2 separate regions of the Homo sapiens genome follow, and region 2 is linked to region 1. The links come from fine-mapping of genetic effects on plasma protein levels. A gene starts in region 1. The other region holds a variant in brackets. All regions are shown on one strand. Distances are from middle to middle.

Region 1 (2,881 bases):
ATTTAGGTCAAAGAGAAAAGACAGGTTTTAGCTACAATACAATAAGAGCTTGTACAGATGTGGTTTTTATTAGAAGGCCTTTTGCATATCTGTGTTTCATGGCCCGAGGCTGCCCTTATAAAGCGTTCTGCACTTACCGTTTTGGGAAGCAGTTGTTCAAACACAGGATCTCTCAGGTGGGTATCACTGCTGCCTCTGTCTCAGGTCAGTATAGGAGTTTTGATGTGAAGTCAGCCAAGAACAGCTGAACACTACTTCGGCTGAGGCCCTTTTATAGGAGGGATTGCTTCCTGTGAATAATAGGAGGATATTGTCCACATCCAGTAAAGAGGAAATCCCCAATGGCATCCAAAAACTTTCCCGGGAATATCCACGATGCTTAAAATTACAATGATGTCAGAAACTCTGTCTCTTGAAGCTACTTCACCTTTGTCCATGCCTTTATATCGTATATGCAATTTTATTAATATGACAAAAATGCATGATTTTTAATTATAATAACATAAAGTCTATGTCTTTAAAAAGTTGTAAAACTTTGCTTGTTAGTAGTGTCTCTCATGTAGTTGTGGTAGTAATTAGAATTTCAGAAACAGAAGGAAACCAAGAATAGGTTTGTCATCCATAGTCTACTACCTTCAATTTCTCATTCATAGCTGTGGATAACCAATCACTACTCATTTTTTCTTCCTTTTTCACCTGCCAATTCAACATATTTAACATGCACTGTCTCACAGAGGAATGACTCACAAGGTAGATATTAATCTTCAGATTTTGCACGGCAGTTATGCCTAAATTAAAATATTATCTAAAAATAATATCTAACACTCAAATGGTTAAAATAATGCCTTATTTTAAAAAAAGAAAAATGGGAAATAGATATTTACATCTGGGAAAGTTTCATGGTTTGTTCAGTGAAAAAAATAAAAAGGAGGCCAGGCACAGTGGCTCACGCCTGTAATCCCACCACTTTGGGAGGCCGAGGCAGGCGGATCACCTGAGGCCGGGAGTTCAAGACCAGCCTGACCAACATGGAGAAACGCCATCTCTACTAAAAATACAAAATTAGCTGGGCATGGTGGCGCATGCCTGTAATCCCAGCTACTCGGGAGGCTGAGGCAGGAGAATCGCTTGAACCCGGGAAGTGGAGGTTGCAGTGAGCCAAGATCACGCCAGTGCACTCCAGCCTGGGAAACGAGTGAAACTCTGTCTTAAAAAAAAAAAAAAAAAAAGAAAAGAAAAGAAAAAAAATAAAACGGAAAACTATATATATATATTTAATTGGTCAAAATTTTGTTTAAAATTTTTGAAATGTTAATGTGCAAAGAATAAAAATTCTTCCACAATGTTAACAGTGACTAACTCTGGATGGCAGGATTTGGGATAATTTTTATATCCTTCATTATTATTTTCAGGATTTTAAAGTTTTTTTCAATTTCCCTTTTTTTCACCTTTATAGTAACAAGAATACAGTTTAAAGAAACTTGTCTCTAGGCCAGGCATGATGGCTCATGCCTGTAATCCCAGCACTTTGGGAGGCTGAGGTGGGTGGATCACCTGAGGTCAGGAGTTCCAGACCAGCGTGGCCAATATGGTGAAACCCTGTCTCTACTAAAAATACAAAAATTAGCCGGGGTGTAGTGGCGCATGCCTGTAATCCCAGCTACTGGGGAGCCTGATGCAAGAGAATCGCTTGAACCCAGGAGGCAGAGGTTGCAGTGAGCTGAAATCACACCATTGCACTCCAGCCTGGGCGACAGAGCAAGACTCCATCTCAAAAAAAAAGAAAAAAAGAAAAAGAAAAGAAAAGAAATTTGTTTCCAAATGCAACAGAAGGAGATGTATGTGGTATCCTATATTCCTGCTCTTCATTTTGACATTTCTTCTGGGTGATTGTATACATTCCCCATCTCTGCATCTTACCCTATCTAAATGATGGTAACAGTAAATGGGGATCATTTTAATTTCCATATTCTGTAGGTTTTCAGAGCTCAAGTCAAGCTAATATTCTATATCTACAGCCTTTCAAAATAGGAGGTCTATCTAAAAATGTACTGTCAGCAGACCTGAACGAGTAGTGGTAAAAGCCTCGTTTTTCTCTTTACTTGTTAGCACTGGTCTTTCTGTGTTCATAAAGATGTCAAGACCCAAAAAAAAAACAAGAAAAGAGAAGAAAAATTCCAAAAAAGACAACTGATTAGAAAAAAATAACTTAATTAACGAATTTAATTCAACCCCTATCAAAAAGCATAGAATTTATTCCCTCCACCTTACCACTCTCTTACATGATCCAGATACTGACATTATTCCAATTCTTTATCCCACTTTACTTAGCTCAATGTGGTTGTTGCTTCAATAAATTCAGAAGAGTAATCACTCATATAGTGTTTATTTAGATTTTAGGGCAGAATGTCAAGTTGGGTTAATACATTATCTGTATGTATTTTATTTTTAATAAAGTATGAATACATAATCTGCTATTTTTAAAAAGCATGGTCAAATGTATAGAGTAGCCAAATCTTAAAAAACAATTTATCTTCGATATCAATAAAGTACCTAATAATTATATTGCTAATAGAAATTAGTCGTTAACATCCCTAGATAACTAACTTTATTATTGCGAATTTTTCATAACTAAGTTTATAGTTTATCTCTTCCCCTTTTTAAAATTAGTTCAAAGATATCTAAAAATAGCCCCAGTGGTGATGAAGTTTCTATTTTACTTACATATATATGTCCTGGACCCCCAATTATAATCTCTAACATTTATTGAGTGCTTACTATGTGCCAGGCCATATTCTGAGCATTTTGTATGTTCACCTATTGATTATTCAATCCGTACAACAGCCTATGAAATAGGTACTCCTATTATCCCCATTTTACA
Region 2 (2,919 bases), 120 kb before region 1:
CAAATCAGACCACAGACATGTGATTTATAAGGTAACATGTCATCATCATCATTTTCCCTATAAATCCTATAAGAGTTTTAAAGTTGCGTTTACACACATTAATTCACAACTACTAGTGAGGCAGGTAGGTAAGGCTGATAATAGTAGCCCCATTTTACAGAAGATACTGAGCCTCAGAGAGTCTAAACCACTAGCTTAAGGACAGGAAGTGACAGGACTGAGCTAAACACCTTGTCCATTACCCTTCCCCATCCCATGCTATTCCTCATGCATGATTTATTCCCCCAAGCCCCATCTTCTTCATTCCAATGCACCCTATATGTGTCAATCAGTGCAAACCTCACCTTGACTATACTATAGTGGACATGTGCCTAAGACTGGCTTCACGCACCGTTTCATCTCATCCCTGGTCCCAAGCACAAAGGACATGGCCCATAGTAGGTTCTCAGTGAATATCTGATAAAGAAAGGCATGCCAATGCTCAGTGCAGATGCTGATGCCTCTAACGAGCTGAGACACACAGAAAAACATTACCACTGTTACAGTACCTTGACAGACTGGGGCTGGTGCTGTCCACTGTCCCAAGTTATCACACCGAACTATATCGGCTCCTCTCAGCATGAAACCTTCAGCACAGCGGAAGCTACAGTTGGTGTCATACTGAAACGCTCTCAAGGATGGAGAGCAATCCATGCTTCCGTGGACAGGACTCTCCAGCGGCTCACACGAAATAGCTAAGTGGAAAAGGTATCTTCTAAAGCCAGGTAATGGAAGGGCCGGGTTCTTCCTCAGAAAAAATTCCTAGATGCTATATCTTTCCTGTCCACATTTTCAGTGTGTTCAGAACCCTAAAACCTCCATTTTCCAAAAGAGAGACTGCCTGGAACACCTTCCCATGCCCCTCTTGGCCTGACTCACTCTCACCTGCCCTTCAGGTCTCAGCTTAGACTTCCCTTTCCTTAGGAAGCCCTCCCTTCCCACCTTAACTAAGGGTAGAAGCCCCTGCAATGTGCTCCCACAGCCTCTGTTCTTGCGCTGTTCATACATGATTGTCATTCTTCCCCATTATACCGTGGTCTCCTCGAAGTTGGGCTCAGTCATTCATAGTTTTATTCTGGAGCTGAGCAGAGTGTTTTGTACATTGAAAGTGCTCATTAAATATTGACATTATCTGTGAAATTGAACCTGAAAAGAGTATATACAGGAAAATGCTGGACTTATAGGGAAAAAAAAAAAAGCTGGACTAGCATAGCTTATTGTTGACACTGTTACCTAGTCCTGTAAAATGATCCTGACCGGGCTTTGTCTCTAGAACACAGGATGTCATCCTAATCAGACTTCAGTTGCCAAGTGAGTGCAGCCAAAGTGAATTCCTGAGCACAATTAAGCCCTGAGTGACCTCAGTTCTGATAAAGATTGGTTTCCTCATGCTCTTCCTTGATAAAGCATTT[C/T]ATTTCCAGGCTATTTCTGAAACTTTTCAAAGTGTAAAGACTACCTCTTTGCTCTGGGCTTTGACCTCTGGTTTTTACAGACTCAGAGCATTTAAGAACCAAAAATCCGGCTGAGCACAATGGCTCACACCTATAATCCCAGCACTTTGAGAGGCTGATGTGAGTGAATCACTTGAGGTCGGGAGTTTGAGACCAGCCTGGCCAAAGTGGTGAAACCCTAGTCTCTATTAAAAATACAAAAAGTTGCCTGTAATCCTAGCTATTCGGGAGGCTGAGGCAGGAGAATCGTTTGAACCTGGGAGGCAGAGGTTGCAGTGAGCTGAGATCGTGCCACTGCACTTCAGCCTGGGCGACAGAGTGAGACTCTGTCTCAAAACAAACAAACAAACAAACAAACAAACAAACAAACAAAAACACCAAAATCCTCTAGTGTTTCTCTCTTCTCTCTTATGTTTTAGGCAAGAAAAGTGAGGTTCAGAAGTGTTAAGTGACTTCTCTAAAGTCTCATAGCTAGATAGTAGCAGGGTTGGGCTTGTCATCCAGGTCTGGGAATTCACTAATCTATCGTAAATTTCCTATTCTCCCATTACCACTGTCCGCCTTATAAACTGAGGGTGTGAGGCAATTGCAGAGAATTCATTTTGGCGGAATTATGTAATTGCCTGGGATTGCATCACACACTTTTTCGATGCAGTGTTCCTTCCTTTGCTTCTTTGTCAAAGGCTACCCTCAAAGACTACATGGTGAACCACTCTCTTTAGCCACCTTAGCCGCTGCTCCCAACTCCCTCTCAAGTATAGGACATGGTCCTATACCTCGGATATGTCAGTAGAGCAGAAGCTCTATGCTAGGTACTTTATACATGCTATTTAATTGTATACTTTTTATGTACTTAATCCTCACAAGCACCTTGCAATTCTTAGCTCCATTTCACAGATGAGAAAACCATGGTTCCTGGAGGTTGAAGAGCTTGCTCTAGTGCAAGAACTTAGAAGAGATCACCCCGACACTGAGAGCCCTTGGCCTCTCTACCATGCCATGATTCCTTCTTGGACAGAATGGAGGTTGCTAATGAAAAATCCTACCCTCACAGGTTGGCAAGGGTGCAGACCAGTGTCCAGAGTCAATGCAGCGGAGCATGTCCAAGCCCCTCACTCTGTAGCCGGGCTGGCACTCAAATTTACAGCTGGAGCCATAGGCAAAAGCAGTGAGCGGATGAACACAGTCCATGGTTCCTTCACTGGGGGCTTCCAGGTGCTGACACTGCACAGCTGGAGAGAATAACCAAGGATAAAGAGAAAGATACTGAGAAAGGAGAAAAGCCACACAGAGAGCAATGGTGGAACCACCTCTGAAATGCAGGTGGAGCTAGCAAGATGTAAAGGTCAAGAGACCCTAATGATGTTTGTCCAGACTTGGATTACCAGTTCCCAGGGTGATCTGAGTCTGTTAAAAACAAAGATTCCTC

Direction of the effects. Positions count from the first base shown, and alleles are read on the strand shown. Strength reflects both the effect of a copy and how common the allele is.
For the plasma level of the protein whose gene starts at base 246 in region 1, allele C in region 2 goes with a higher level than allele T (weak association).

What was found. PIP is the chance, under the fine-mapping model, that this variant and not a neighbour inherited with it causes the effect. The UK Biobank Pharma Proteomics Project read protein levels with antibody pairs (Olink). The fine-mapping took linkage between variants from a reference panel, not from the people measured, so its PIPs are less certain.
Region 2: its variant is fine-mapped to the plasma level of the SELE protein (UK Biobank, PIP above 0.99).

The regions. Positions count from the first base shown.
Region 1 is chr1:169,733,834-169,736,714 of GRCh38, forward strand. It overlaps SELE (selectin E), which reads right to left and starts at 246. Exons shown (of 14, transcript NM_000450.2): 1 at 138-246.
Region 2 is chr1:169,608,956-169,611,874 of GRCh38, forward strand. SELP (selectin P) reads right to left here. Exons shown (of 17, transcript NM_003005.4): 7 at 2,537-2,722; 8 at 549-734. Among named protein-coding and RNA genes, the nearest start is that of SELP, 20 kb to the right of the region's middle. The variant C/T (reference allele first, on the strand shown) is at 1,452.